Linked DNA regions of Homo sapiens: regions 1, 2 and 3 are each linked to region 4. The links come from fine-mapping of genetic effects on gene expression. A gene starts in region 4. Each other region holds a variant in brackets. All regions are shown on one strand. Distances are between the middles of the regions.

Region 1 (8,146 bases), 81 kb before region 4:
ACAGTCATAGCTTTGTATATCTTCACTTAGGAATTTTGCCAAATTTCAGATCAAGTCATATTTATTGGATTTGGCTAGTACAACTTCTTGGAAATTACACACACTTTAAGCATTTATATTCCTGGTGAACAATTAGTTTTAATATACTTATTGGGCTGAGTTAATATGAAGTACTTACAGTTAATTCAAAGATCAGCTTTGTGGGGTGAGATTCATGTGATTATTCAGCCATACTGCCTGAGGAGCATACTCTGATACTTGTGGAGGGCATATCCTGATAAAGCAGCGATTTGAAGTATTGTGGGTTGCCTACTATTTATAGAACACTAGATATGAGGAGGCAGATATGAAGCCTTGACTCTTGTGGTCAGCCTGACTGGACAATAACACAGACAGCATCACTCTGTTGGTCTTGACTACTTAATTACACATATCTAGAAAAGTTTATTTTGAACAATTGCAAATAATGTTTACAATACAACAACTCTTTTTCTCTTTTTTTAGACTAAAAAATCATTTAGAAAAATAACACACATATAAACATACTCTCTCTGTATATAAGTTAAATGGTATAAACCATTATAAAGAAAAAGTGTAGGGTCCATACTCTCCCTGCCTGAGTCAGTTCTTTCTCTCCAGAGATCAATGCACACACGTTCACTTGTATAGCTTTTTTATTTTACAAAAACACAATCATACTCTACATATTCTACAACTTGCTTTTTTCACTCTCTCTCTATATACATAGATATTTTGTAATTTTTGTAGAGACAGGGTCTCACTACATTGCCCAGACTGGTCTGGAACTCCTGGGCTCAAGCCATCCTCCCTCCTCAGCCTCCCAAAGTGCTGGGATTACAGGCATGAGCCACCGCACCTGGCCTCAATCTATATTGCTGATGACTTAAATATCTGTGAAAGTCTTCTGAGGCATTAATATTACCTGCCAGAAATAAACTGATAATAAGTGAAGTTCCTTATATTGTTCCACAGCAAATTGGTAAAGCCTGTGATTAGTAGTTATTGAATGGATAACTACTTAAAAATTCATATAATGTAAAAAACATCCCCAAATTTTTTGAATCTATGCTAATGTAGTCATAGACTTTTAAGAAAAGCAGCAATTTAAAGTATTGTATTGTTACTTTAATCAAGCATCATTCAGTGTTTTATAACAGAAACATGGTGCAAAGATACAAGCACACATACATGTAAATATACACACATATATACATATAAATATCACATACAAAGATACAAATACACACACATATACATATACATGCATATGCATCACACATACACACACACACACACACACACACACACAAGCATCTGCATCCTGTCTGGCATAACTTTGCCCTTTTCTGCTCTGTTCACATCTTTTTGGCTACCGTACCTTTAGCTTGAATTCTAGCTTTTCTGTTGGTGAAGATGAAATGAAGTAACCTGAATCCTGAGTCAGTAGGGCCAAATTTGATAGGATGATTGGCTCCAGTACGGGCTCCTGATGAACAGGGCTGCCTGGGTCTTGGGCAGACCCCTGTATTTGAGGTCACACAGATATTTCCCGAACCATGTGCCCCAACCAAGGAAGACTGCTCTATGAGTTAACTGAAAGTGGACAATTAGGGAGCCTCATTTCCCAAAGTTATTAACCTCTCCCTTCTCTCTCTTTTTCACTGGAAACACTTTCCAAGGAAGCTTATAATAGGGTTTAGCTTTCTGGAAAATGAAACTTTTTTAAACCTTTCTTTCATGGAAACCCAAACTTTCTCAATGACTTTTACAAAAGGTTGTTTTTAGAGTTGCACTGGCTACACAGAAAAACTATTATTTTAATGTGCTACTTATTCTCAAGTATGTGTGTTTTGTGCATAAAATTGACTTATATACTAGCATATTATTCATATCATAATATGCTAGTATGTGAGATTTTTAAAAGCTTTTTGTCTTTGCAAAAATTTTCACTGCAAGATCCTTTAAAGCAATGGCTTTTCTACTGGTCTAAAGTACCAGTTTGCTGATCATTGCCTACCTGACAGGAGAGGAGAGAAAGAATTAATATAATGTCCATCCCTTTTCTTCATCCCCTGTAAGTTAATTAGTTTCTAAGTTTCTTGAATCTTCTTCCCAAATTTTTCTCTAATTCCCATTATGGCTTTAGTCTGGGTTCTTACACCCAAACTTAGAATTATAGCAATAACCTGCTAATTGCTCTCCTTAGAGTAGCTTATCGCTTTCACTTCAATCCAACCCGTGCATTAATTTCATACAGATCATCTTAAAGCACTGATATCATTATATCTCTTTCTTGTTCACACTCAAGGGCTGCCCAGTGTGGATGGCATTTAATCCCATCATAACATTCAAAGCCTTTTATCATCTACCTTTCTTATCAACTTCCGAGTTCTCTCCATGATATCACTTATAAAAACATTTTGCAAATGAGGTAGTAGGCAGAATAATGTTCTCCCTCCAAAAAAAGTCCACATACTAATCCTTGCAATGTTAAATATGGTACCTTATGTGGCAAAAAGAATGTTTCAGATGTGATTAAAGTTAAGAACCTTGGGATGGGAAGAGTCTCTGGAATTATCCTGGTAAGCCTCATGTAATCACATGAGTCCTTAAAAACAGAGAAGCTCTCCAGGTTGTAGAGAGAGGAGATGTGACTCTGAAAGAAAGGTCAGAGAGATGCAACGTTGCTAGCTTTGAAGATGAAGAAAGAGGCCACAAGCAAATAAATGGAAAAGGCAAGGAAATAAATTGTGCCCTAGAGTCTTCAGAAAGGAACACAGCCCTATCAACACCTTGACTGTAGTCCAGTGAGACTCGTGTTAGACTTCTAACCTACACAACTGTAAGAGAATACCTTTGTGTTGTTTTTTATTTTTTATTTTTTAATTAATTAATTATTTATTTGTTTTTATTATACTTCAAGTTTTAGGGTACATGTGCACAACGTGCAGTTTGTTACATATGTATACATGTGCCATGTTGTTGTGCTTTGTGTTGTTTTAAGCCATTAAATTTGTGGTAATTAGTTATAGCAGCAATAGAAAACTAACATATGGGTAAATCACTACATGTGTACATGCCCAGTGTTTCTATTTGCCAAACAATCCTCCCACCTCTAAGCCAGGCCCAGTAGTGGTTCCAGATATGTTCCCAGGCTGGCCTACTGCCCGAAATGCCCTCCTCATTCCCTTTCACCTACTTAAATATTCTCTGTCAGTCAAGTCCAGCTGAAGACCTATTTCTTCCAGATTACTCCCATCCCTTCCTTTGAGGGTATTGTCTGCACTCAATCACTGTTTTCCTACTTTGTCAATTGTTTAAAGTCTGTATGTCTTGCTTCCATAATTAGATTTCAGGCTATTGGAGGAACAGAGACCACATTTTACATTTTTTTGGGTACTTCGTAATAATTGGAAAAATTGCATACACACATATGATCCACCCTAAATAAGCAGTTTAATACTAGAACATTTTAAAATTTAAAAATTTAAAAATCAAATTATTGCCATTAGAAAAAGATCATTGAACTCATTGATGAAATTATAATGCAACTCAGTGAGGAAACAATCCTATTGTCAAATAACCTTCCCCAAGAAAACATCACTGCATAAAGAAAGTCATTTCTGTGCATATTTTAGTGGCAAGGTAAGCTGTAATAGAAATGAATGAGCTATCTCCAGTTGCAAAAGAGTTATATGTTACTACAGATAAACAGCAAGGTAACACTTTCTTACCAGCTCGGGAAAGAGATCAGCCTGCTTGCTAAGCAGAATGGACAGGTTTATTGTGAGGGCTTGAAAAGTAGGATAAACCCTGAGGGGTGCTGCACTCACAGTGCTTAGCTACTCCTTTGTTCACACCTTTATTACATTTAATTTTATTCCTTGGAATTGGAAAATTCAACCTTTGATAAGTTGCTACAATTGGCATCCTACTCGGTATTACATATCAGAAAATGATTTCAGTCCTTATGTTTTGCTGCAAAATAGGTATATATTTAGCACTGGAAAAATGATGAAAAGCATTCTTGAGCCTCTTAATCAAGGAAAGTAAGATGAACAATAATGTAAGCATGGAGTGAGACAAGGATGAGATTATTATTTGATGTTCTTATAATATTCTTAAGATTCTGATACATCCATCTGCTAATCCCTGTAGCTGCTTATTTGTAAGAGAACATTCATTATCAAGATCCTTTGGACTTTAATGATTTTGGTAATTATTGATTCCATTTGCATCCTCTTTTTAACCATGTGATTGCACTCCAGGACAGAGGAAAATTTGCAACAGGGTCTGAAATTGAGCAGAAAACGTTTATCTCTATATGAAACCGATAAGCAGGAGAGAGAATGCAGAGTGTGCTGCTAAGTAACAACTGGTCCATTGCTGGATATCTGCAGTGTAATTTGGTGATGAGATGCATGCCTCCTCCACAGTCATAGCCACTGTCTCCCATTTTCACTGCCTCTGTGTCTTAGTCCATTGGACACCTAAACAGCTCAGCCCAGATGGAGTCCCCAGAAAGAAAAAGTTTCATTTTCTGCTTCCCTAAAATGGGTGCCCAGGCTCTATTTCTCCTAAATTGTCTTCCACACATTTTTTCAGCTTGTCTGCTGGCCTTGCCTGGCTGCTTGCAATACGCTGGGAATTCTGCTGGGTATATTGGTTCCAATGACAAGAAATGTATTTCAT[C/T]CATCAAATGACAACATGTACATATACTGCCTGATGAACACTCAATACCAGACATCAGCACGAACTCTTGTTTGTTTCAATTTGTTTACACTGAAGACTGTTCAAGAGTCTCAGCTTGTAGTTGGTAATTGATACAAGTAGAAGATGGGACTTAGCTCTGGCATCAGAGACCTTTGGCTTGGTTTGGGTGTGGCACTGAAGGCCGCCTCCAAGTGCCTCCTAACTGGTGACTGGGTCACCTTCTCATTCTGGTCCTCTGTTTTGTGATTGTCAGCATCTTGTCAGGAGTCACTGACTTCTTCCTCCTTCTTCCCACAGCACCTTGTTTGTGCTTTTCCTACAGCATTTTGCCTTTGGGTTAATTTTGATTGTTTAGACGTGTGCCTCTATGATAACAAAAATTAAGCTCCTTGACAGTAGAGAATCTGTTACTTGTATTTGAATCTCCCTCAGGACATAGCAAAGTTCTGTGCACCTACTAGACAGACAATAAATATTTGCTGAGGATTTTTGAGTGAATAATGGCAACTGAATTGTTAACTTTCAGATTCCTATAGTATCAACTCATGGGATCTTCTTTTTTAACATTCATATGGTTTGGCTGTGTCCCCACCCAAATCTCATGGTGAAGTGTAACTTCCAAAATTCCCATGTGTCGTGGGAGGAACCCAGTGGTAGGTAATTGAATCATGGGGAGGTGATTGAATCATGGGGCAGGTAATTGAATCATGGGGCAGGTAATTGAATCATGGGGAGGTAATTGAATCATGGGGCAGGTAATTGAATCATGGGCAGATCTTTCTCGTGCTGTTCTTGCAATAGTGAATACATCTCATGAGATCTGATGGTTTTAAAAAGAGGAGTTCCCCTGCACAATCGCTCTCTCTTTGCTTGCTGCCATCCACATAAGATGTGACTTGCCTGTAATCCCAGCACTTTGGGAGGCCGAGGCAGGCAGATCATGAGGTCAAGAGATAGAGACCATCCTGGCCAACATGGTGAAACCTCATCTCTACTAAAAATACAGAAATTAGCTGGGCGTGGTGGCACGTGCCTATAATCCCAGCTACTCAGGAGGCTGAGGCAGGAGAATTGCTTGAACCCAGGAGGCGGAGTTTGCAGCAAGCCGACTCCAGCCTAGCAACAGAGCAAGACTCCATCTCAAAAAAAAAAAAAAAAGATGTGACTTGCTTCTCCTTGCCTTCTGCCATGATTGCGAGGCCTCCCCAGCTATGCGGAACTGCAAGTCCATTAAGCCTCTTTTTCTTCCCAGTCTTGGGATCTCTTTACAGCAGTGTGAAAATGGACTAATACACACATGCATAACTTCCCAATATTTGTCTTTACAAAGCCAATCGAGGTCTTGTTTCTTGACTTCTACTATCTTGTTAGCTTGAGGCCACTCATCAAAGGAATGTACACTATCCTAAGTGGTTATAGCAACCCCTAATTTCATCATGATGTGGAAGAGTTACCTGGTACCTGGTTACATAGAATCTTTACTGTATCCCTAATAAAATTATATGGAATATAATTTTTAAAATTCTACTTATTCATCGACTCTAATTCTCTTAATAAGTAATATATATCTGAGAATATACTAGAAACTTAAATGATCAAGCACATTCTAAGACACCTAGTAGTTGAGTAGAATCCATTGTCTATAGAAGTTTCTTGGTATCTTCAAACTCCAGGTCAACTGTAAAGAAACACTTATGAAACTGCCATCATCACAGTGAATAAGACCAAAAATGAAGGTAAACTTGTAACACAGAAGTTTATTAATTAGAATGCTCAAAAATATTAATGAGTTCAGACTAGCCTTTCTTTCCTTTTTTTCTCTTTGAAAATGATAATCAGATAATTTGTGTAGCATTTTACATAGATAAACTAAAAACCAATTCTAAAAGCTATACCTGTGGTCATTGGCTGATGAAACCAAACTGCTGGTTTTCATCACTGCAGGCTAAGGTGAAGGTGCAATGTGCCCTTATCCACATTGGGCCACCATCAGTTACAATCGGTGTGCCCTTATCCGCACTGGGCCACCATCTTCCTACTTGTTACAGAAAAACCTGCTCTGTAAAGACAGTTAAGGGTAAGGAAATGAGAAATATGGCAACCACATGCTGAGGACATCTCAGTCTCTTCCTGTCCGTTAATCCAGTCAGAGTACAGTCGCACTAAAATGTATCCCAGGCATCCTGGATTATTTATGCCTATGATACCAAATTATCAGAAGTTCTATAAGACCATGTCACACTAAACCAAATAAAAGAAATAGCCAAGGGTAAAAGTAACTGAGAACATTTGGAAAATGAAATGAAGTGGATAATAAAACTGTAAAGATTGTATTTATGAATTTAATTCTATAGACATATAATATGTTAAAGAAAAAGTACTAGATCTCTGATTACTATGTGTTTCTGACATTTTATAGACCTTGAGATCAGATATGAGTACTCAATCGATTCAGCACTGCGTATCGCCACTGCAATTAAGACTAAATGAAGTGAAAACGCTTTTTAACAAGTATGTCATACAAAGTGCTATGATTCATCTACTTACAATGGAATTAGAATTCTGGAAATGTGTCGCCAGATTTTTTTTTGCCATTAGAGAGGATTAAATTGTACAAAATAAGTGCATTGTCTGTTATTTATGACTCAGATCTAAAATTTTTCTTGGTAAATGAATAAAACCTTTATATAACCATTAATCTGATCTCTGGTATTTCAATAGTAAAAAGGAAAGTGTTGACATTTTACAATTCATTGCTGAAAGAAACCTATAAAATGGAGTGCCATCATCTCATTGTTTCTTGATACAGACCGGTCACAATTTCTATACTAAGTTTTAAGTATGCTGCAGTTTTAACTTTCAAGCACCATCGTATAATTGAATTTATTTACATACTTTTCAGATCATATTGGAACCTGGACACATCCCATATATTTTATTTAAAGATTATGTTGAATAATATAATCTATGTTGATGGGAGGTTGGCTCTGGGTTAGAATCACACTGTCACTTACTAGCTGAGTGACCTTAGGCAGGTTACTTAACCTCTCACCAAGCCTCAATTTCCTCATGGGCAAAATAATATTGGTGTCAAAGCGTTTTCTTTTAACTTTTTATTTTGAAATAATTGTAGATTCATAAGAAGTTGCAAGAACAGTATAGTGAGGTACCAGGTATCCACCACCTAGCTTACCCCAATGGTGACATCTTCCATAACTACAGTTCACTATCAAAACCAGGAAATTGATTGGCACAATGCAATTAACTAGACTCAGTTCATACTCAAATTTCACCAGTTTTTGCACACACTCTTCTTTCGGGAGCAAGGGTAGGGTTTTACATAATTCTATGGCATTTCATCCCATGTATAGATTCATGTAACTACTATTACAATCAAGATAAAAATATGTGT
Region 2 (8,000 bases), 130 kb after region 4:
AGAAGCTGTAGCCTTCAGGAGTGGACAGGGAGGGAGCCAAAGCAGTAAGTCCCTTCATGACATTGTCCTCCCTTTCATCAAGCTCCTGCTGGTTTCCACATCTGGAAACCAGAGGGAAAAGGAATCTGTTGATTGGGGTTTTCCAGGGTGCTGAGCAGGGTGGAGAGTGGGTCTGGAGGGGCAAATGAAAAATATCCTGAGCATATCCCAAAGGCTCTTCGTAACAGGCAATAAGAGATGTTCAGTGTCACTGGAGCTACCTCGGTATAGATAAACTAAAATTGTGATGGGCAGTTTGATGATTGTCTAAAATAATGGCATTTTAAAATGGCCACTTAATTCACTGTTTACAGTTCCTGTTTGATGACTAATGATATTAAAATATGTCCAGTTATCTTGGTTGGAGACCTCGAACTTATTGCTGTAAACATATCCTTCTCTTCAGTTCATTCTGTCCCCTGACTGCTGATACACTTTTTTTATCACTTCCTCTGTCCCCTGCCTGCTGTCCTTCTCCCTATCCTGAACTCAAAGCCCAAGGGTGGAATGGGGGAGAAAGACCTGAGCCTCATAAGAGACTCAGGACCCTGTCTTATCAGTTTATTCCATTTTTTTTCTCAGTTTTTACTTTCCCACTTTCTATAACCTTCTCTCCACAGACTCAAAAAGTGAAAAAAAAAAGGATTTTGCTATGTGCTTGTAAGGTTATATTTTCAATAAAGAATGTGTACATTTAGAACATATTTAAAAATATTAAAATGTGTCCAGGAATTTATTTTTAAAGATAGGTGTTACCTTTACCCTACAGTGGAAGTCTTGGTAGTTATGTTTTAGTAGAAAACACCAATTTTTTTTTTTTTTGAGATGAGGTCTCACTCTGTCACCAGGCTGGAGTGCAATGGTGTGATCTCAGCTAACTGCAACCTCCGCCTCCCAGGCTGAAGCTATCCTCCTGCCTCAGCCTCCCGAGTAGCTGGGACTGCAGGTGGTGCCACCACCCTCGGCTAATTTTTTGGTATTTTCTGTAGAGATGGGGTCTCGCCACGTTACCCAGGCTGGTCTCAAACTCCTGAGCTCAAGTTATCCACCTGCCTTGGCCCCCAAAGTGCTGGGATTACAGGCGTGAACCACCATGCTTGGCCCAAAACACTACTTTTCAACAAGTTGTAGTATATATTAGTTTAAAATTAGTTGTTCATGGCTCCTTCCCTAGTCTCTTTTTTTCTTCCATCAGCAGATAATAGTCAACTCTTATTTAGGATTTTTCTGTTTTACTCTTTACCATTGATTTCTTTCATCCCCTCCTTTCCCCCTCCTTAGGGAGAATGCACAGAAAAGTAGTTCCTGAAGTAGGATTAGCCTACCCTGCTGCAAATTTGCTTTAAGAAGCTTGTGATTGCTGTAATAAAAATCAAGGAACTATTTTGCTTTTGGATAATCCATCAATGAAAATAAGAATATTTCATGGTTGTCTCTTGTTTCCAAGGCGATTTAAGTTTTAGTGCATGGTTTGTACACTTTGCAACAAGGTAAACAGGATAGCTATAATAATATTAGTTGTTATTTAAGTTCTTGCTATTTGCTGAGCACTTTATTTACATTGTTTCACCAAATCTGCATGATTTTCCCTGTTCTGCTATGAGCTACACGTTATTATTTTCACTTTAGAAAAGAGGAAAATGGGGCTGCAAGAGGTGGGATAAATTTCCCAAGGCGAGGACTGAAGTTTGAAGGCAAGAGGGTCCGAATGGTCTCTCACCCCATGAGCCCATCCCTTAAGTGTGTTGCACACTCAGGCCTGTGGCCACACAGCCTGAAGCCCTAAGTGTGGCTGGTCCTGGAACTGCAGTTATTTAGAGCAGAAGGATGATAAACAGGCAGAGGGAAGGGGAGCAGGGAGCCTCGTGAGTGAGATTTTTCCTTTCACATATCCACTGTCACCCCTTCTATTAACTTGAACTAGAGTGTTTTGAAGTTGGAGAAGAATTAAAAAATGCACACAAAATGTGACAAGCTCTGGTACAACATGTTGTCATTATTTTCACTGAACACAGTGCCTGACACTTTGTAAGTGCTGTACAAATAGTAGCTGCTCTTATTTTTATGGTTGCTATTATTACTCTTTGGGTAATCAAAATGAGATTTTGGTTATTTAGATTTAGATATTTTTGAAACATGTAATTTTTTTAATGGAAAATATATCCGACACTTTCAAGTACATTGATTTGGCCAATAGATGACTAACTGGATTTATAGACAGATAGGTTATCCCAAAGCCTTGCAAACTGCTGCCACAGACATGGGTTTTGTCTGCTTCACTTGGATTTCCAGAGATGACATAGTAGAATCTTGCCAGTCCAAGGCCCAAGCTGGGGTTTGGGTTCCATGACTGTTGAGCCTGCACTCAGCAGAATTTACAGGTCAAGGCCTTGGTGTTATCCTGAGGTGGTTCCCTGTGGAATTCTTTGGTATAAACTTGTAGCCTGAAGCCTCAGTCTCTAATTGCTCTTAGAAGCATTTTGCATGAGCTCGGTTGGTTTTCATATTGCTGCGTTTTGGGTGCTGTCAGACACAGTATATTGTTGGGAAAATGATACACTGTACATCTAAAACCTGTTTTCTCTCAAATAGGAAGATGTAATGATTAGCTCCAGGGACCCAGTTGCCTGTGTGAGTCATAAAACTGAGATAAGACCCTAAATTTTGGAAATTTTTATAGGAAGATGCATGAGAGATTTTAAAGCAACCTATCACCCAGGGTACCATATGAAGAAAAAGATGCCGTTCTGACGTCAGAACCACAAATAGCATTAAAGCTCCGGAACTGGAAGGTGATGACAAGGGTTCAGGATAGCCAGAGCTTTTGTCCACTCCAGGGTTCCTGCTGAGGGAGCTTCAAACGAGAGCAATGACCAAATGGAGAGACAAATACATTTATGAAGGCCAGTGATGACCCAACAATCCACACCTCAGCCACTAGTGGTCCTGGGGCCTTGTGGGACATACTCATTTTCAGCTTAAAAAATGGATTGACAGTCTTGGCCGAGAAATGGGGTCTCTGCAAGGAAACAAAAGCCACCAATAGTGTTTGGAGCTGAGCCTTAGTTGGAACTAGAAGTCTCTTTCCCCCACAGTCGAGAGTGTGATGCTCAAAAGAAGGATGGCCAAATAAAGACTGAAGGGAGCAAGGATCAGCTTAGTCTGTGCCTGTGCAAGCATTGGGTGGATACAACCTTTCATCCCAGATCCATCTGTCATGTGCAGCCTCAGACACACACATGCATGCACGTGCACACACCTGCTCT[A/G]GGAAGTGTTGCTGGGACAGAACACCTAGGCGGGTAAGTTTTCAGGAGACTTCCTGCTCTCCCCCTCCCACATCTATAATGCTGGGTCTGTGAAGCCAGTTTCAGGACCCCTCCTCACCCAGTAGACTCTTGCAGGTCCTCCTGTCCTTGTGGTTGCTGCCCTGCCCTTCTTCTCAGTCACATGTGGAGCCCAGGGTGAGGTCTCTGACACCCAGGCTGTTCTCTGCAGTGATCTGGCCCATTAGGACTGTCAAACCCTGGGACTGGCTGACTGACTGTGGAGCCTTCATCCCTTGGGAGGAACAGGTGAGGGCAAGGGAGTGTGATCCACTTAGCCTGATCTCCCTACGGGCAGTGGTAGAGGGGAGTTTTGCAGACTTTGTTGAGATTTTCAAGAAGGGACAAGGAGGTGGGGCAAAAGGTTGGAATCTCTTATTATATCAAAGGTGAGAACTTTGAATCCTAAAACACAACCAGGAAATGCTTTGGATGAACGTGAAAGGCAGTGTTCACTTTTATATGCAGACTATATGACAAACATTAGTTTGTAAGGCACCTAGTTGTTATTGGGGAAAGACTTTCATATAGAAACATGTTATATGTGGCATTTAGGTTTCTAGGTTAGCACAAAAAAGTTTTAGCCCATTATGTAGCTGGAATATATTTACACTGTTGAAACAATATTGCTGTGAAAGAAACATAAAATTGAATTAGAACTCCCATTTCTTTTGTATGGGTGTCCTTTGGGAGAAGCGGGTTTAATTAGAGGCTGATGAAGCAGATGAGGGAGAATTCGTGAAGTTCCTTTAGGGAGTAGTTATCTTTAGTGATCCATTGTGTGCTGGGGAGCTGAGGGGCTCAGGTGGTGTTATTAACCTCACATTGCTAGGGAGGAAGTGGAGGCACAGGCGGCTCAAGTAGCTTGACCAAGGTCACACAGCTAGGGACTCAGAGCTACATCTGCTCAACCGTCCTGTTTTCACTGTCCTATTTTATCTCCAGGTAAAAAGGGGTGTGTCGAGCTTCTTTGTGGCACTTATTTTCTGTTTCATCTACAGATAGCTCAGTTGGTATCTTTTAACTAGAACTGTTTTTAAAAATAAATCATAAAACCATTATATACCAAAAATATGACAACTTAATATCAATCACACTTTTCTAATTGTCTTACTACTTATTCTTTTACTGTTTGTTGGTATCCAAACAGTAACTCCACTCATTGCAGTAGGTTGCTATGCCTCTTAAGTCTCTTTTAATCTGTAGCTTCCCCTTCCAGTCTCTCTTTTCTATATACTTGCAGTTTGTTTGTTGAGGAACCTGGGTTGTTTGTCCTGTAGATTTTCCCCCAATCTAAAGTTTACTTATTGCATTCCCATGATGCATCTAACATGTTTCCCTGCCTTCTGTGTTTGCTAGAAACCGTAGTTTGATTTAGAGGTTTGATTGGATTATACTAAGTTTTGTAGGGTGGAGGTTGTCTCTTTTCTGTGATGCTAACAGAAAATCGGAGTATGCGAAGTTTTGTAGGATGTTTGGTTGTCTCTTTTCTGTGATGCTAACTCTTATTAACGATCATTGCTTATATCCATTAGTCATTAGAGGTTGTAAAATGGTGATATGCTATCATTTTGTCTTCATGTATTCATTGGAATGCCTCAAGAAACTTTTTTCAAGAGTTGACTCCCTAGCATTCTCCTAAGGTGACAGGAGTTCTTTGCCTGTTAATTTGCTTAGTATCATTATGAATCGTTATGGGTTTATGTGTATTTGATGTGTTGATGCATTGCAGTTATTAAACCTATTTGTGCTTAGACTGCCCAGTTTTGACTGAAGGGAGCTTATTCAAGTTGGTGAGGCACTTTTCTTGAAGAAACAGTTCTAGCTAAGTTGAGTGTGTCCTTATTCGAAACTCATTGTTTGTAGATGGGGACTCCACTGACCACCCTGGGGGTGGAGGCACATCCTGGTGTCCACCTAGCCCTCTCTAGTCATGCCAAGGCCCCAAACATCATGGAGCTTTTGAAAGGAGGCATTTCACAAGGCCCCCTTGCAGCTCCTTTGCTATAATTTTTGTGGCTGCAAAAGGGTAACCTGGTGTGAAGGAAAGGTGCTCACTGACTCCAGCTTGAATTCCAGCTCTGCCCTGTACAAACTTTGTGACTTTGGAGAAGCTGCATGATTTCTCCTTGCACGGTAGGGATAATGCATCTCTAAAAGGATTGGTACAACCTAGAGGTACAGTCCCTGTAAACCCGCTAGGTTCTCAAGTACGTGTGTGTGTATTTTCTGCCTTATACTAAGGCGCTACTCTAGGTTTGGAGTGATAAAAAAAATGAATATGATGGCCGGGCATGGTGGCTCATGCCTGTAAACCCAGCACTTTGGGAGGCTGAGGCGGGTGGATCACGAGGTCAGGAGTTCGAGACTATCCTGACCAACATGGTGAAACCCCATCTCTCCTAAAAATACAAAAATTAGCTGGGCGTGGTGGCTTGCACCTGTAATCCCAGTTACTCAGGAGGCTGAGACAGGAGGATTACTTGAATCTGGGAGGCAGCCTGGGTGACAGAGTGGAGACTCCATCTCAAAAAACAGAATATGACATAGTTCCACGTTTCGGGAGCTTCCATTGTTTGTGCCCTATATTGTCGTCTTCTGTGGGAAGGCAATGTGTTGACTGAGTGCCGGCTGGCTGGCAGGAGTTACGGATTGGGAATTGGGTTCTTCCAGGTGAGACACTCCTACTGGGAGAGCATGAAGAACTGTGAGCCTGAGGGGTAAGTCAGCTGAAGACTGTAAGGAAAAGCCAAGGAGCAGACAACTGTACGGCCACAGGCAGGGGCCAGAGGCAGAATTAAGGTCAGGCTTTCTAAGCCTGGAGCTCAAAGCTGCCAGACATAAATAGGATCCAAGAGAACTGATTAAGAAGGACTCTAAAGTCTGGTGGAGTTGATGGCTGAGAATACTCTTGGGTGTTATGGTTCAGAGACTGCCAGATAAGGCTTGCTTTGGGTTGAAGCTCTAAAGCAGCATTACCCAATAGAAATAAAATGTGACCCAGATGTAACCTGCACATGTAATTGTAAAATTTTTTATGAATCACATTTTTAAAAGTCAAAATAAGCAGGTAAATTAATTTTAGTACATGTTCACTTAACCAGTATATTAAAAATATTATTTTGACATGTACTCAATATAAAATTTGTTAATGAGATAGTTTACATTCTTTCTTTTTTTATTTTATTATTATTATACTTTAAGTTTTAGGGTACATGTGCACAATGTGCAGGTTAGTTACATACGTATACATGTGCCATGCTGGTGTGCTGCACCCATTAACTCGTCATTTAGCATTAGGTATATCTCCTAATGCTATCCCTCCCCCCTCCCCCCACCCATTCTTTCTTTTTTTTTGGAACTAAGTTCTTAAAGTCTGGAATGTATTTTACAATTACACTGCATCTCAGTAGGGACTACCCACATCTCAAGTGCATAATGACCACACAAGTAGCTACCATGTTGGAAAAACGGAGGAAGAAAGTGAAATTTACATCAAGGTTCTAAGTCAAGCATTTACAATTTGACATTGTAACTTGACAAGCATAGCACAGTAGTGGTGTTGGTTTTTTGTCTCTTAGTTTGTAGCTCCATTTTTGCTTCCCCATTTTCTCCTTTGTATTATATGAGGCTAGAAGTCTGCAAGCTGCATCTTCCACATTACTTTTCCAGATGGTTTCCTCTTAGATTCCACAGGTAGGAGATACTGGCAGGAAATTGGAATGTGAGAGAAAGGAACAGGCGATAGCAGTGGCCCCTGCTAAGTGGCAGTGGTGCTGCCTGAGTGGTGATGATGCCAGCCCCCTCCGCTGATCAGCATGAGTGTGGGCTGGCGGGTGTCAGCCCAGGGTGTTAACAGTTTATTGTCTCTGGATGTTACTGCTTTATCTTTTTAGTTTCTCCAGCTCTACCTCCATCTTCCCTTTGTTCATCCATACCTTCTAACACCTTTGTAAACAGTTCACTACAGCGGTATCTCTTCTTAATATATATAAAATGGTTCTTGCTTTTCTCACTGGACACTTGGGATCTGATGTCAGAGAACTATGCTGTACTGTGGTCTTGTATGTACCATCTGTTGGTTCTATGGCTTAGCTTCTTTAATTTTCAACTTCTTCTGTCTAAGGATAGAAAAATAAGGATAGTGAAAGTTCTGACCTCATAGAGTTACTGCAAGGATGATATAATCAATATATGTACCATTGCTAGCTTTGAATGTAACACCCAGTAAATATTGCTTATTATTGATAATAATATACAAGCCGATTTTTGAAGGCTCATAATTTAACATTTTTTATTATGGAAAAGTTCAAATGTATACAAATGTAGTGAGAATAGGATAGTGAAACCTCACGTGTACATCCCCCAGTTTCAACAGTAACAAATTAAGACTATTCTTTTATTTATACCTCCTACTTTCCCCCATACTTTGGGATTCTTTTAAAGCAAATCTAAAACATCCTCTTATTTCAGCTGTAACTATTTCAGTATGTAACTCTGAAAGAGAAGGACTGTTTAGAAAACACAACCACAATACTATTAGCAAATCCCTAAATTAAAATAATTTGTTAATATTATCAAATACAAGACAGTGTTGAAGTTTCCCTATCTCATAAACATTTTCATTTAAAGATTTTT
Region 3 (8,146 bases), 36 kb after region 4:
GGAATATTGCCCAGCCATAAAAAGGAATAGAGTATTGATATAATAATATGGGTAAATATTAAAGCATGCTGGGTGAAAAAAGCCTTACGCAAAATAATATGGTATTTTCCTATTTAAAGTTCTAGAATAGGCAGAACTAATCTGCAATGAAGAAAAATCAAAATAGTGATCTGTGCAGATGTGGGCGTACAAGTAGGAGTTGACAGAGAGCAGGCATGAGGGAATGTTCCTCTACATCTTCAAAGGAGTTTGGGTTACACATGTCAATGTACTTTTCAAAACTTACTGAATGGTACACTTACAAGTGTTCATTTTATTGAATATAAATTTTGCCTTAAAAGAAAGACATCATAAATGAATACTGAAGTTTAGTTAATGATATGCATGCTGAAGTGTTAAGGGTGAATTATACTGTTATCTGAAAAGTACTTTGAAATGCATTAAAAATAAAATAGATTAGTAGATGGATAGAATAATAGATAAATGGATATACGTATGATAAAAGAAATAGAATAAGATATTAGTTGTACAATCTAGATAGGGATATATGGGTTTTGACTGTAGCATTCTTTCAACTTCTCTGTATGCTTGAACATTTTTATAATAAAAAGTGAGGTAAAAACAAAAACACATGATCACATTGGCTACAACTGAGCAACTGTTGTACAAGCCTGTCAGGACCGTTGAGGAGTTTTCTGAAATCTACTTCAGAACCTAACACCTGGGTGGTGGAAGGGAAAACATTTATCTGTTGGCTTCTTTCTCCTTGTGTCAGTGCTTAAAGCCCTCTTGCAGGTGCCCTGCACCTTAGAGAATTCCCAGGGTAGGGAGCTAGAGTACACAGCATGCATGGGCTGATGTGGCATGCTTCAGATTGCACCTGTGTGTAGCTGGTCAAAGCCTATGCAGAACCAAGAGTCAAACAAGAGGATGGAAAGTGCTCCAGAAGTATTGTGTTAGTTACTCATTGCTGCTTAACAGATTACCCTCCAAACTTAGTGTCTTACAACAAACGAACAGCTATTCTCCACAATTCCTGTGGGTCAGGAATTCAGGAGTCACTTAGCTGGCTGGTTCTAGCTCAGGGTCTGCCATGACATTATATTCAATATTTCAAGCCAAGGCTGCATTCATCGGAAAACTTGATTGGGGCTGAAAGATCCACTTGCAAGGTGGTGCATTACATGGCCCTTGGCAGGAGGCTCCAGTGTCCCTGCCACATGGGCCTCACAGTAGGTCTGCTGAGTGTCCTTGTAACATGGCACATGGCATCCCCCAGAGTGAGTGATTATGGGGGGAGGAAAAAGTCACAATGTCTTTTATGACCTGGTTTTGGAAATCACCCGCTGTCACTTCCACCACCTTTTATTATTTAGAAGTGAATCACTAGGTACATTTCACACTCAAGGAGAAGGGAATTAGGCTTCCTTTTTTTTTTTTTTTTGAGACAGAGTCTCGCTCTGTTGCCCAGGCTGGAGTGCAGTGGCACAATCTTGGCTCACTGCAACCTCCGCCTCCCGGGTTCAAGCAATTCTTCTGCCTCAGCCTCCCGAGTAGCTGGGACTACAGGCGTGCGCCACCACGCCCAGCTAATTTTTGTATTTTTAGTAGAGACGGGGTTTCACCATATTGGCCAGGCTGGTCTTGAACTCCTGACCTCGTGATCCACCCGCCTCGGCCTCCCAGAATGCTAGGATTACAGGTGTGAGCTACCGCTTCCAGCCTAGCTTCACTTTTTGAAGGAAGGAACATCAAAGAAGTTGAGAACATGTTTGGAAACCACAACAGATTTCCATTACGTTTCACCTTTGCACTTCTTAGGACTTTTGTGCTCTGCATTAAGTCCAGTCTGCCCAGAGTCTTCTTCTAGAGAGTGGCTAGCTCCAAATCCTACAAACACTAAATACAGGAAGGTGAATAGAACAAGTTACATTCCCTGCTGATGCAACAGGTTCCAAATCCATAAATAGTACTTGTCATCTCCATTTTCCACCATTTGCTCTAGATTTCCCTTAACCTTAGCCAATTATTTGGCTGATGTAGGTTGCTTTCCTGATGGCTGACTCAAAACTTTACCTCTGAGGGGTCTGAGCCTTTAGTTGACCTTGTAAAGTCATGATCACTGCGATTGCCCATCCACCATCACCAGTCATGGAATCATCAATAGATGTCCCTGTGAATCTTCTATGTCCTAGACACAGTCCTTCCTGCACACATAATGTAACAGCAGCCTTAGCTCTTCATGGTAATCAGAGTCGATTACTCTTTTCAGCATAGGAACACCTCTTTTTTCTTGCTGGTCTACTGCCATGAGGAACCCAAAATTCAAAAACAATAATCACACTTTAAGGTGAATGGAAGCGCTATCATTTCTGCTAGTGCGTACATTCACCCACCTGAAAGTGGGACAATTAATTCAGCAGAACCTAGGCTCATTTGATGGGAAATGCACAACACTTTTAAGTGGATCATGAGAAGTGATGGTGAGGGGGGCAATCCTACTTCTACCTCATGTTTCCTGGACCAATGTTGCTAGACACTGGGAACATAACACCATGTATCAGCTATTGTTTTAGCACATATATACAATATTTTGGAGGACAGTGTCATTACCAACAGGTCGTTCTACCTGAGCCTGAGCTGACACTAAAAATCCTTTTCAAAAACTTCTGCTTTCAATCATGAAGGAGTAAGCCAGCCTGCAATTACATTTTGAAAGTAAGCAACTAGAAAACTAAACAAAATGTAGGAAAAAAACTATTTTAAGACATTGGGTAAGAGTCCAACGAGATTGTGATCCCCATGAAAAGGAAACGAAAGGGGCAAAATACACCCTGGTGTAGGCTTTCTGCCTGCAGGTAGCTCCAAGATTGTGATTCAGGGAGATGAAATTATACAAAGTGTTGTCATTGAATTGAACAGAGATTATAGTTCAAGAAGACCAAGGTAGCTATGATTTATAAGGCAGAGCACCTGTCTAAGTCCATTTTCTGTTGTTATAACCAAATACCTGAGACTACTTAGTTTATCATGAAGAGAAATCTATTTCTCACAGTTCTGAAGGCTGAAAGTCCAAGGTTGAGGGGGTGCATCTGGAGGGCCTTCCTATTGGTAGGCAATCTCTGCAGAGTCCCGAGGTGGTGTAGGGCATAGAGAAGGAGCTAAGCATGCTAGCTTAGCTCCTCACGAAGCCACTCATGTCCCACACTCGTGACTTTATCTCATTCTAATGACATCCAAAGGTGCCGCCTCTCAAATACTATAGTTGAATTCCTCCCCCACCGCCCCCCGCTTAATATTGTTACAGTGGGGATTAAGTTTCAACATGAGTTTCAGAGGGGACAAACACTCAAACCATA[G/A]CATTACTTGAGAGGAGAGCTCTCAAGAAATCTTTGGCTGGGTGCAGTGGCTCACACCTGTAATCCCAGCACTTTGGGAGGCTGAGGTGGGTAGATCGCTTGAGCCCAGGAATTTGAGACCAGCCTGGGTAACATGGCGACATCCTGTCTCTACAAAAAATACAAAAAATTAGCTGGGTGTGGTGGTGCACACCTGTGGTCCCAGCTACTTGGGAGGTTGAGGGGGAGGATCCCCTGAGCCTGGGGAGGCAGAGGTTGCAGTGAACCATGATGGTGCCACTGCACTCCAGCCTGGGCAACGGTGAGACTCTTGATTCTTTGCCTGAACACCAAACTAGTCAGGAATAGGATGAAATCCCATAGGACTGGACAAGAACAACTTTCAAGGAAAGAATAGTTCTGTGTAAGCTGTGAGACAAATAACCAATAACCAGAGTTCACACAGAGCTGGGAATCATTTGAGTTCCCTCTAGTCAGAGTAAACAGACCTTGGTGAATACACACGACATTCAGTAAAAATCCTGGAAAGGCAACAGTTTGAAGTGGGGCTAAATTATTTCTCAAATAAATGCTACTCTAGAACACGCTAAAAGAGCCTAGAACATACCTCAAAAGGATCAAACTAATCTGCAAGTAAAAGTCCAACAGAAAAGATTCAACACTCTTCAAAGAAATACAGAATTTCAGCACCCAACAATGTAAACTTTACAATATCTAGAATCTAATCTGAAATTAATAGACATATGAAGAAAAAGAAAATATGAAGAACAGTCAAGAGAAAAATTGGTCACAAGACTCAGACCCAGAAACAACAGAGACTATGGAATTATCAGACAAGAAGGTTAATATAGCTATTGGAAATATGTTGGCTAGGCCTGGTGGTTCACACCTGTAATACCAGCTCTCTGGGAGGCTGAGGCGGGTGGATTGCTTGAGCCCAGGAGCTCAAGACCATCCTGGGCAATGTGAAAATCCATCTCTACACAAAATACAAAAAATTATTCATGTGTGGTGGTGCACACCTGTATCCCAGCTACTTGGGAGGCTATGATGGGAGGATCGCCTGAGCTGAGGAGGTTGAGGCTGTAGTGAGCTGAGATTGTGCCACTCACTCCAGCCTGGGTGACAGAGTGAGACACTGTCTCAAAAAAAAAAAAAGAAAGAAAGAAAGAAATATGTTTCTTATATAAAGAGATGAAAGGACGTGAAAGTTATAAGAAATAGAAGATTTATAAAGGACTAAACTCAAGCTTTTAGTGATAAAAATACAACATCCAAAATTGAAAATACACTGGATAGATATAATAGCAGATTAGACACTGCAGAAGAAAAGAACAGTGAACATAATGACACAGGAAAAGAAGCTACCCAAAGTGAAGCACAGAGAAAAGATGGAGAAACAGCACATCAGTGAGCTGGAGAACAATATCATGTGTGCATCTGAAGTAAAAGAAGGAAAGGAAAAAGGAGGGAGAAAAATGTTTGAAGAATTAATAGTAAAAGAAATTTCTAAATTCTTCACACCTGTTAGGATTTTCACGTTGTTTTGTTTCACTTTTGAGGAAAAAGAGACAGGGTCTTGCTCTGTCACCCAAGCTGGAATGCAGTGGCACTCATAGCTCACTGCAGCCTCAAACTCCTGGGCTGGCTTCAGTGATTCTTCCACCTCAGCCTCTGGGGTAGCTGGGACTACAGGCATGCACCGCCATGCCAGCTAAATTCTTTTATTTTAATTTTTTTTTGTAGGGATACATTCTTTCTATGTTGTCCAGGCTGGTCTCAAACTCCTGGCCTCAAATGATTCCCCCGCCTTGGCCTCCCAAAGTGCTTGGATTACCACGCCCCACTGTTTTCTTTAAAAAGGAAAATAACAGTTGTTGGCAAGAATGTAGAGAAATTGGAACTCTTGTGCATTGCTGGTGGGAATATAAAATTGTGCAGCTGCAATGGAAAGCAGTTTGGTGGTTCTTCAAAAAGTTAAACAGAGAATTACCATATGATTTAGCAATTCCACTCCTAAGTATATGCCCCCAAAGAATTAAAAGCAGAGACTCAAATAGATACTTGTACACCAACGTCCACGGAAGTGTTAATTTGCAAAAGCCAAAAGGCATAAACAATTCAAATGTCAAAACAGACGAATGGATGTATACACATACAATGGAATATTATTCATCTTTTTAAAGACAAGAAATTTGGGTATCTCCTACATCATCCTTTCAAGGATGAACCTTGAAAACATTATGCTAACTAAACTAACCACAAAAGGAAAAATATTGTATGATTCCATTAATATGAAGTACTTACAACAAACAAATTCATGGAGACAGAAAGTAAAATAGAGGTTTCCAGGGTCTGGGGGAATAGTAGATTGGGAAGTTATTGTTTAATGAGAACAGAGTTTCAGTTTAGGGTGATAAAAAAAATTCTGGAGATGGATGGTGGGAATGGTTGCATGACAGTGAGAATATACTTAGTGCCACTCAACTGTACACTTAAAATGGCAAATTTTATGTTCTGTATATTTTACCACAATAAAATTAAATCTCTTAAAAGTTAGTTACAGCCGGGCTCAGTGGCTCACGCCTGTAATCCTAGCACTTTGGGAGGCTGAGGTGGGCGGATCACGAGGTCAGGAGATCGAGACCATCCTGGCTAACACGGTGAAACCCCGTCTCTACTAAAACTACAAAAAATTAGCCAGGTGTGGTGGTGGGCACCTTTAGTCCCAGCTACTCAGGAGGCTGAGGCAGAAGAATAGCTTGAACTGGGAGGTGGAGGCTGCAGTGAACTGAGTTTGTGCCACTACATTCCAGCCTGGGCGACAGAGCAAGGCTCTTTCTCAAAAAAAAAAAAAAGTTAGTTACTACTGTTCAAGAATAAATTGTGCCTTATTTGCCAATATACGTCATTTGAGGAGGATGACAAAAATTGAAGAGCTTGATGGAATTCAGTTTTGAAAAGTGAGATCTATCTGTGTTTCCTACAAACTTTATTTTTTTTGAGACAGGGTCTCTTTCTGTCACCCAGGCTGGAGTGCAGTGGCACAATCACAGCTCATTGCAGCCTTAGTCTCCTGGGCTCAGGTGATTCTCCCACCTCAGCCTCCCGAGTAGCTGGGACTACAGGTGTGTGCCACCATGCCTGGCTCTTTTAAAATTTGTTGTCAGGGTCTCTCCATGTTACCTAGGTGGTATTGAACTCCTGAGCTCGAGCAATCCTATCTGCCTTGGCCTCCAAAAATGTTGGGATTACAGGCGTGAGCCACAGCACCCGGCCCTACAAACTTTTAAGAAGATAAATGCTTGTAGAAATTTAATTACATTTTGCTTCTATGAATTCCTGATGAAAACTTTCTGAAATCTGTCATAAATACATAATCAAAAGAAAAAATAAATATCTTTAATATTTTCACATCCCTGAGCTTTCTGACTCCTTCCTTAGTGCTATGGCAAGCTCCAGTCCAGGCAAGTTGCAGCTTCTGGACTTTATTTATTATAGGCCACTATTTTGTCCAAGCCTCAAGAAATCACTCTTGCAGTGTATTGCTACAGGTATCCTTGCCAGGACACTGAGTTTTCTGATCAAGGAAGGGTGCTCCCAGGTCAATAAATTCACCATTATCCAGCTTTCTATTCCACTCACCCACCCTAGTGCAACATCCTCAAGATCCACTTTCACAAGCTTATCCAGGTTCCTGCCTGTATACATTACCCAGGTGAATGGTTTGGCTCTGTGTCCCCACCCAAATCTCATCTCGAATTGTAATCCCCATGTGCTGAGGGTGGGGCCTGTAATCCCCATGTGTTGAGGGAGGGAGGTGACTGGATTATGGGGGAGGTTTCCCCCATGCTGTTCTCGTGATAATGAGTGGGTTCTCACGAGATCTGATGATTTTATAAGCATCCAGCATTTCCCCTGCTTACACTTCTCACTCCCGCCACCCTGTGAAGGTCTTTGCTTCCTCTTTGCCTTCCACCATGATTGTAAGTTTCCTGAGGCCTCTGCAGCTATGCAGAACTGTGAGTCAGTTAAACCTCTTTCTTTTATAAATTACCCAGTCTTAGGTATTTCTTTATAGCAGTGTGAGAACAGTCTAATACCCCAGGTCCTTCAGTTTCTTTAGTAAACTATTTCCTACTGCAGCAGGGATACATTTCCCCACCTGCTTGAGCCAAAACCTGACTCCAGTTATCATGGAGTCAGTTAATTGGAGATGGAAGGAGACCTTGAGGAAGACAGACATCACTTTGCAAAGCAAGATTCAGGTGAGGTATTTTCAGGGTCTCCTGGCAAGATGAGGCTGATGTCCCCAGCAAGGAGAAGAAGGCTGACTTTGCTCTCCTAGAGGATGAAAATTAATCTAGTGACTCAATATTCTCAGACTTGTCTATCCTATCCCAGCTCTTAAGATTTTAAGCTTTTCCTATCAGGGTTCTAACTTTGAAATAGGAGATCTGTGAAGGCTTGGCGTTCTGTCTCCTCTATGACTTTGTCAACTGTTGTCTTAATCTTCAAGACAGTATTCCCTGTGCCTGCAGGAGATCAAATTCTTTTAACCATTGCTCTATTTCACCGTGGGCTTGAGTTGATAGTTGTCTAACATGACCCTGTCATTTTCTTATTTTGAGACTTTCAAAGCAGTTAACAAAAGCCAGTGAATTCCCCATTCCTTTACAATTATAATTGCCTCCATATTGTCCAAGGACCATAGTTACCACTTGACCCAGAGCCTCTCCCTTCCACCTGTACCTCATCCCAATCCACCACAGGTGAGAACCTTAATT
Region 4 (8,146 bases):
GATAACGCGTTTCTTCCTTACCAAATACCCAATGAGAATGCATATCATTAATTCTGTGGTTAGCTAATAAGAAAATGAAAAAAGCTCCCTTAATTTTTCCTTGAAAAAATTTTTAAACTAACACAAAGATGCCAATGAATGAGTATTTTGCTTACATCCATTCACTCCATCCAACTCTCATTCAAATGCTCATTGTGCACCTGCTAAGGTCAGGTGCGTGCTTTCTGCCAAGCATTCCAAGAGGAACGTCACATAGTCTTTGCCCTCAGGAAGCGTACGGTCTGGTTGGGAAAGAGATGCTTCCAACAATAATTCTGATACCTGTGTGATATGGTTTGGCTGTGTCCCCACCCAAATCTCATCCTGAATCCTACTCCCATAATTCCCACGTGTTGTGGGATGGAACTGGTGAGAGATAATTGAATCACGAGCGCGGTTTCTCCCATACTGTTCTTGTGCTAGTGAATAAATCTCACGAGATCTGATGGTTTTATAAACGAGAAGCCCTTTTCGCTTGACCCTCATTATAGCTCATGCCGCAGCCAGGTAAGAAGTGCCTTTCGCCTTCCGCCTTCCGCCATGACTGTTAGGCCTCCCTAGCCACGTGGAACTTTAAGTCCATTAAACGTCTTTCTTTTATAAATTGCCCAGTCTTGGGTATGTCTTTATCAGCAGCGCGAAAACAGATTACTAACACACTGTGGTAAAGGTGAAATCAGTGCTCACTCCTTCGGGTGAATTCCGTCACATAATCTCCACTGGGGAAGGGGTGGGCATGGGCAGCTCCTGGGAGCTGATGTCTTAGGGGCCCTAACACAAAAGTTCATGCAGTTCAGCATCCCTTCCCCTCCCATGCCCCACAGGGCACAAACGCATTGTTGTCCATCACCAAAACACATTACCCTTAGTACTCGACTCTAATGAAGTTCCAGTTCCTCAGTTGTATAACGAGGCTTCCAAGCTCCTATTTTAAAAGAAAGTTTCTTGAAGCTAAATAAAAGCACTGCTAACATGAAATTAACAGTGGAAATTTTTGAGTGTAATTTCAGGGTGAAAAAAACTGAAAAGACAAATGTAGATTTTAGATATTTCAAGGAAGGAGAGAGAGTAGTGTTGCTGGTACCATGCCTCTGCACTTGCTATAGCTGAGTTTCATTTGAGTATCCATTATTTGGAAGGAGTTCTTAAATCTAAGCCTGTGGAAGACAATAAATTCACATTAATTATCTCTCCATTTGACTCAATTTCTGAAGAAGTTCTATCCTTCTGATGAACTATCAGATTAAATCCCAGATTCCTCAGTATGATGTCCCTGAATACCAATATAAAGAATAAAGGAAGAGATCAAAACCTGGATGAATAATCTGTATAAACATGGGCATATACACAAGGTATGACTATAATATTGAGACTCATCCTATAAAGCACCTACAAAAGTTGATTGTATTATTTTATACTTATGCTTGTGCACATAAAAAATATTTGGCAGGCTAAAGGCCAAAGAACCAGGCACTGTTCTCAAAAGGACATAGCAGATTAACTACACCTCTATTTGTCCTTCTATACTCAAGGCTACTTACTGTAGTTGGGTTGACCAGGCAGAGTTTAAATCAATATATGTTGGTTGAGCCTGGATCTTAGATGAGAAATTCACACTAACGTGAAATTCACACAGACATATGTGGAAACACTAAAAACATTTTCTTTTACTTCATCCACCAGTGACTTTAATGAAAGCAGAGCATAATAATTAATACAAGTAATTAGAGTTGACAACTGAAGTGTCAAGAAAACCACAGTTCATCTGTTATCCGTCCATCTCTGTTGAAATATTAGTTTACTGCCATATATTAATCTATTTATAAAGAGATCCAGACAATTAGAAAAATTAGTCTGGAATCACCAGGCTGAAGGCTTAGCTGAAGTTAAAAGACAAGTAAAAATGCCTCCAAACTGTAAAACCTGAGTTGGGGAATAAATGGTAAAATGTGTAAAAATTTAGAAAAAGGTTATATGTGGACTGTAAAAAATACACTGGACTCACAGGTAATTAAGGGGTGAATCAGAGTTGTTTCCTAAATGGCATAAGCCAAACTCTTAGATATTTCTACCATTAGCTAAAAGGCAGAGAAGCACTCTCTCTCTCTATTAATGCACTTTTAAAAATGAAAATTGTGAAGTGTTCTGCCCTTAAAGTGGACCTTTATTTCAGGTCTGCATTACTTTGCTTAATAGATATGGTCCTAAAGATTAAGGTGGTGATCCATTTTATCTTGTAAAAATGCATAATTTAATCTGAGTTATAGGAATTTAAAGCTGCCCTACTTTGAAGGCCTTTGTGACTCAAAGATTTTTTTAATTTAATTTTTAAATTGAGAATTACCTGGCTTGGGCTTTTGGTCTTTTTATAATACGTATTGCTGTCTACTTTTTTTTTTATTCTTGGCTGCCTCAAGCTATTCTTGCCTCCAAAAGGTGTCAGCATATGAATAAAAACAGCAGAAAATAATTACCCTAATTAGGTCAATGTATTAAGCTGTTTCTACAACTGTTTCTCTTAAACACCTTATCTTTGTAGTCTTGGCTCATTAGAAATTCGACTAGTGGTAAGTATTTATTTTTTTCCTTCAAGGGGGTTTTTGCTTTGCTAAGCCTCGGGCATTTGGTTCGTGCAAGAAATCACAGAAACTGCTCCAGCGGACTCCGAAAGGAGCGGAAAATTCTTTTGTTTGGGGGCCATGAGGGGTGGGGGAGGGGTGGGGATTCTGGTGTAAGCTTTTGGCTTGCATTCGCTTTCTCCCTCCGAAAGTGGGCGACATCAAGCAAGTCCCAGTTACAGAAAGAACCCACTGCAGGGCGTCCAGTCACTTGCCCAGTGAAAAGACTGTAATCAGACAACTTTAATAAAGGGAGAGCAGGAGAGTGGTGACGAATTTCCACATTCCGAACAAGCTTGTCGAAAGAGGAGTGCAGGGAAGGAGCAAGAATGAGGCACTGGAAGACGGTGAGCGGGGCCTTGCCACAGAATCCCGGGCCCACCTGCTTTCTCACAGTCGCGACAGCCGGCCCGGAGAAGGGCAGCCCAGCGAAGGGCACGCCCCGCGCGGGTGCCAGGGAGGCCGGCAGGGGCGTCCGCGGTCGCTGCTCACCTGCGCTCCCCGCTGCCCGGCCCAGCCCGCCTCGCCACCGAGTCTGGAAGCCCACACTCACCCCTTTACCCGGGAAACGCGGCCGGAGCCGGCGGCGGGTCGGGAGTCCGAGATGGTAGATCCCCCTCCAGGCGCCTCGCTGACATTTTGTCCCGGACGGAAAACCTCCGCGCGTGCCCCTTAAAGACACAGCGCTGCATTCACACGTCTGCGGGGAAAGGGGGGCCGTCACGTGTGGCCTTCGCCCGAAAGCGGTAGGGGAGTCGCTCTGAAACCGCCAAGGATCGCGAGCGACAGATTTGTGTTGGCCAGGGTTTTAAGATGACGCAATAGCTGAGTGTGGTTGAAATGTAACTATTGTTTTACAACTTTGCATTAACCTTCCAAGACCTGAATTCCCGGGCCTGAGTCTCAGAGCGCGGTTTGCATCTTTGCAGGCTGTAGGCGCATGATGTCACAAGTTATTGGAAGAAATCCCTCCAACCTAGGTTGGGACAGATGAAGGCGGCGCTTATTGGTGTTCACCAAAACACCAGCATGGTGTACCAGCTTTGGCTAGATGATGCTCAGGTAACGAACAACCCCTGCAACTCAGTGGCTTAAAGGTCCATTTCTCAAGCGAATTACTGTGGCTGCAGGGAGCTTTGGCAGTACTCCACCAGTTTTCTTCACTCCAGGCTGAAAGGTCAACTTTTCTGGGCCATGCTCCCTGCTGGGCTGGTAAACCAACTTTGAGGGAGAAGGGGGAAGTCCAGATATGTAGTGTTTGCTATTTCTATGATGTAAATGCTCCCACAATGGCCGATTTCAAGCTACAAACAGTCCAACAAGTGGCTTGCCAAGTTCCTGGAAATTTAACAATTAGCTCCTGTACATGACTGGCACAAGCTGCTTTCCAAACTCACATTCCGCATGCCTCAGTTCTGCTCACTTTCTATTGGTCAAAACTTGCTGTCAGTGGGTGGGGAAGTGTACCCCTCTCTTAAGGAAGCCTTGCAAGTCTTGTGACAATGAAACAGGAGAGTTCCCTGATTTCCTCCCGGCCCCCGCCCTCCCACAGCCCTTTGCAGGACGTGCAACAGGGTTGTGGCTCGTGTGTTCGGTCTCTGCCTGCTGAAACCCCTTATGGGAGGTGGAGCATGCAGACGGACGGGTGCAGGAGCCAGGGTGCAAAAGCTGGGGCGCTGGGCTTCCAGCCCCACGGCAGTGTCCAGGGGCAGGATCCCGTGATTCCCGGAGCCCAAATGGGCGTGTGTTACAGTGTGCTCTTTTAGCCTTACCATCAGCTGACGGCTTAAGTGTTAACCAGCTCAATAGACCCTCTGCCTTTTTGCAAGCGCAGAGGGTCAGTGTGACAGTTTCTGTATCTCAGCTCTTGTCTCACCTCCCAGAAGAATCAGGTCACACATGGACTTGAAGGATGGTGAGTGCCGGGGTGGGGGCGGGGGTAGAGGAGTTGGGGGAAGGTTGGGGGTGTTTATTAGGTGGTAGGGGTGGCACTCAGTAGGATGGATGGGGAGCTGGAAAGGGGGTGGAGTAGGGAGATGATCTTCCCCTGGAGTTTAACCGTCCAGCGGTGGATTCTCTAACTGTCCCCAGCTGAACTCCACCCAATATTCCTTCTCTTTTCTCTTTATCTGCGGCTCTTCTGCTCTTCTGCTCTTCTGTTCATCTGCTCATCTTTTGCTGCTGGAGCCTGGTGTCTGGAGTTTATACGGGTACAGGATAGGGGGTCATGGAGGGCCAAAAGGTAACTTTTGGGCACAAGAACGGGAATGCCTCTCTTCATTTAGGGCCATGGGTTTCCAGGCTTGAGGGTGGGGCCTTTGCCAGGGAACGGCCTTATTCTACCCAGTAGTTCCCTGTCTACTGTCCCTATCAACAATAAGTGAGCTGAATAATATCCTTAAAAGAAGAACAAGAAATAACTGGGTACAATAATACAATCCACCATTCCAATAATGGTTTTGGAGGAAGAAACTGGTTGGGTATCTTCAAAGGCAGAGGTCCCCAACCCCGGGCCATGAACCAGTACCCTTTGTACCCTGTTAGGAACCTGGTGGCACAGCAGGAGTTGAGTAAGGGGCAAGCAAATGAGGGAAGCTTCATCTGTATTTACATCCGCTCCCCATGACTAGCATTGCCGCCTGAGCTCCACCTCCTGTCACATCAGCTGGGGCATTAGATTCTCATAGGAGCACAATTGTGAACTGTGCACATTCAAGGGATCTAGGTTGTGTGCCCCTTGTGAGAATCTAATGCCTGATGATCTGTCACTATCTCCTGTCACCCCCAGACGGGCCTGTCTAATTGCAGGAAAACAAACTCAGGGCTCCCACTGATTCTACATTACGGTGAGTTGTATAACTATTTCATTATATATTACAATGTAATAATAATAGAAATAAAGTGCACAATAAATATGATGCGCTTGAATCATCCCAAACCTATTCCCCACCCCTGTCCATGGAAAAATTGTCTTCCACGAAACCAGTCCCTGGTGCCAAAAAGGTTGGGGATTGCTGTTCAAAGGGATAATTTTGCAATGTGAAGGCCAACTATTAGGTTACTACTTTTCTTCTGGCCCAAAGGACACTTACAGCTACGGACATCTGATAAAAAGAAAAGTAATGAGTACACTGTTGGTGGGAATGTATAGCCATACACCCATTATGGAAAACAGTATGGCGGCTTCTCAGAAAACTAAAGATAGAACTATCATATGATCCATCAATTCCACCACTGGTTATTTATCCAAAGGAAAGGAAATCAGTGTATCAAAGGGATTCTTGTACTCCCGTTTATAGCCACACTATTCACAATAGCCAAGATACAAAATCAACCAAAGTCTATCAACAGATCAGTAAAGAAAATATGATATATATACACAATGGAACACTATTCAGCCATAAAAAAGAATGAAATCCTGTCATTTGCAGCAACATGCAGGGAACTAGAGGCCATCTTGTTAAGTGAAATAAATCAGACACAGAAAGGCAAAAATCACATGTTCACACTCATATGTGGGAGCTAAAGAAGTTGATCTCATGGAGGTAGAGAGCAGAAGGGTGTAGAGGTGGGGGAGTGAAGACAGGTTGGTGAATGGGTACAAGCAAACAGATAAGATGGAATAAGTTCTAGTTTTTGATAACACGGAAGGGTGACTGTATTTCCAAAGAGAAGATTTTTTTCTTTTTTTCTTTTTTTTGAGACGGAGTCTTGCTCTGTCGCCCAGGCTGGAGTGCAGTGGCACGATCTCGGCTCACTGCAAGCTCCGCCTCCCGGGAGCTTGTGTGGAGCTAGTGTTTTTATTCATGCCATTCTCCTGCCTCAGCCTTCTGAGTAGCTGGGACTAAGGGAACTACAGGCGCCCGCCACCACACCCATTAATTTTTTTGTATTTTTAGTAGAGACGGGGTTTCACTGTGTTAGCCAGTATGGTCTCGATCTCCTGACCTTGTGATACACCCGCCTCAACCTCCCAAAGTGCTGGGATTACAGGCGTGAGCCACCGCACCCAGCCGAAGAGAAGATTTTTTTTCTATGAGTTTGACTTTAATTTCTAAGATTCCACATATATATGAGATCATGCAGTATTTGTCTTTCTGTGTCTGGCTTATTTCACTTAGCATACTCTTCTCTAAGACATCCATGTTGTTGCAAATGGTAAGAGTTCCTTTTTCTTTAAGGCTGAATAATATCCGTGTGTGTGTGTGTGTGTATGTGTGAATACACACCACAGTTTCTTTTTTTATTCATCAGTTGATGGACACTTAGATTGTTACCATATCTTTTGGCTTCTGTAAATAATGCTGCAATTAACATGGGACTGCAGATACTTCTTGGAGATAGTATTTTTATTTCTTTTGGAAATATACCCAATAGTAGTATTAGTGGATCATATGGTAGTTCTATTTTTAATTTTTTGAGGAACCTCTCTATACTATTTTCAATAATGGCTGCACCAATTGACATTTCCACCAATAGGGTACAAGCATCCCCATTTCTCTAATCTTCACCAATACTTGCTGTCTTTTGACTTTTTGATAATAGTCATCCTAACAGGTGTGAGGTGATGTCATTTTGACTTGCAATTTCTCTGCTAATTAGTGATGTCGAGTAGAAGAGAAGATTTAAAATGTTCCCAATACAAAGAAATGATAAATGTTCAAGGTGATGGGTATCCTGATAACCCTGACGATCATTACACATTGTATGCATGCATCAAAATATCCCATGCACCCCATAAATACATACAAATATTTCGTATCAATAAAAAAATGAAAAAGAAAAGTAACTAGTATAAATGGCCAGGTGCAGTGGCTCACGCCTGTAATCCCAGCATTTTGGGAGGCCCAGGCGAGTGGATCACCTGAGGTCAGGAGTTCAAGACCAGCCTGACCAACATGGTGAAACCCCATCTCTACTAGAAAAATACAAAAATTAGCCGGGTGTGGTGGTGGGTCCCTATAAGCCCAGCTACCTGGGAGCCTGAGGCGGGAGAATTGCTTGAACCCGGAGGCGGAGGTTGCAGCGAGCCGAGATCGTGCAACTGCACTCCAGACTGGGCGACAGAGTGAGACTCTGTCTGAAAAATAATAATAAAATAAAATAAATAAATAAAAAAGAAAAGTAACTAGTATAAACAAATCAGGTTAAAGTCATCTCTAATTCATGTTTCAATATTTGAACAATTTTTTACAGTTTATTGTATCTGGTAATTCTTTTAAGAAGAAGCTTTATTGCTTTGAGTGTCTAAAAGAATCCATTTAACTTTAAACTGACCACGTAATGAGATACATGATATTTTCATTAGTTCATAGAGGAGTTTTTAGTAAGTGCTGGTTATGGGCAAAGCACCATCTTAAGCCTAAGCAGGAGTCTGGAGACTATTCCTGCCCTCAAGAGGATTACACTCCAGTATGACAGTAAGACATATGCAACTCTAAGAAGAAAGTGAAAAATTATATAAGAGGAAATATTCAAGTGCCATAATA

Which allele goes with the higher level. Alleles are on the strand shown, and positions count from the first base shown. SD is a standard deviation of normalised expression in the study named. Not every link is listed here.
With allele G in place of A in region 2, the expression in thyroid of the gene that starts at base 3,385 in region 4 is higher (small effect, 0.22 SD a copy in GTEx).

Evidence for each region. PIP is the estimated chance that this variant, and not a neighbour inherited with it, causes the effect.
Region 1: its variant is the best candidate, but not a certain one, in a credible set for the expression of ZBED3 in monocytes (Fairfax 2014, PIP 0.62).
Region 2: its variant is the best candidate, but not a certain one, in a credible set for the expression of ZBED3 in thyroid (GTEx, PIP 0.86).
Region 3: its variant is the best candidate, but not a certain one, in a credible set for the expression of ZBED3 in lung (TOPMed, PIP 0.81).

Annotation. Positions count from the first base shown.
Region 1 is chr5:77,003,161-77,011,306 of GRCh38, forward strand. No RefSeq gene overlaps it. Among named protein-coding and RNA genes, the nearest start is that of AGGF1, 23 kb to the right of the region's middle. The variant C/T (reference allele first, on the strand shown) is at 4,714.
Region 2 is chr5:77,216,694-77,224,693 of GRCh38, forward strand. The region is part of intron 1 of PDE8B (phosphodiesterase 8B); the gene reads left to right. Among named protein-coding and RNA genes, the nearest start is that of PDE8B, 10 kb to the left of the region's middle. The variant A/G (reference allele first, on the strand shown) is at 3,306.
Region 3 is chr5:77,120,082-77,128,227 of GRCh38, forward strand. The region is part of intron 2 of ZBED3-AS1 (ZBED3 antisense RNA 1); the gene reads left to right. It overlaps LOC124901008 (a long non-coding RNA gene), which reads right to left. Exons shown (of 3, transcript XR_007058827.1): 3 at 7,627-7,703. It also overlaps a transcript of PDE8B not described here. Among named protein-coding and RNA genes, the nearest start is that of ZBED3, 37 kb to the left of the region's middle. The variant G/A (reference allele first, on the strand shown) is at 3,360.
Region 4 is chr5:77,083,901-77,092,046 of GRCh38, forward strand. ZBED3 (zinc finger BED-type containing 3) reads right to left here and starts at 3,385. Exons shown (of 3, transcript NM_032367.4): 1 at 3,211-3,385. ZBED3-AS1 (ZBED3 antisense RNA 1) reads left to right here and starts at 2,815. Exons shown (of 3, transcript NR_182763.1): 1 at 2,815-3,719. It also overlaps a transcript of PDE8B not described here. RefSeq lists enhancers at 3,043-3,644, 3,645-4,247, 4,248-4,848 and a silencer at 3,057-3,226.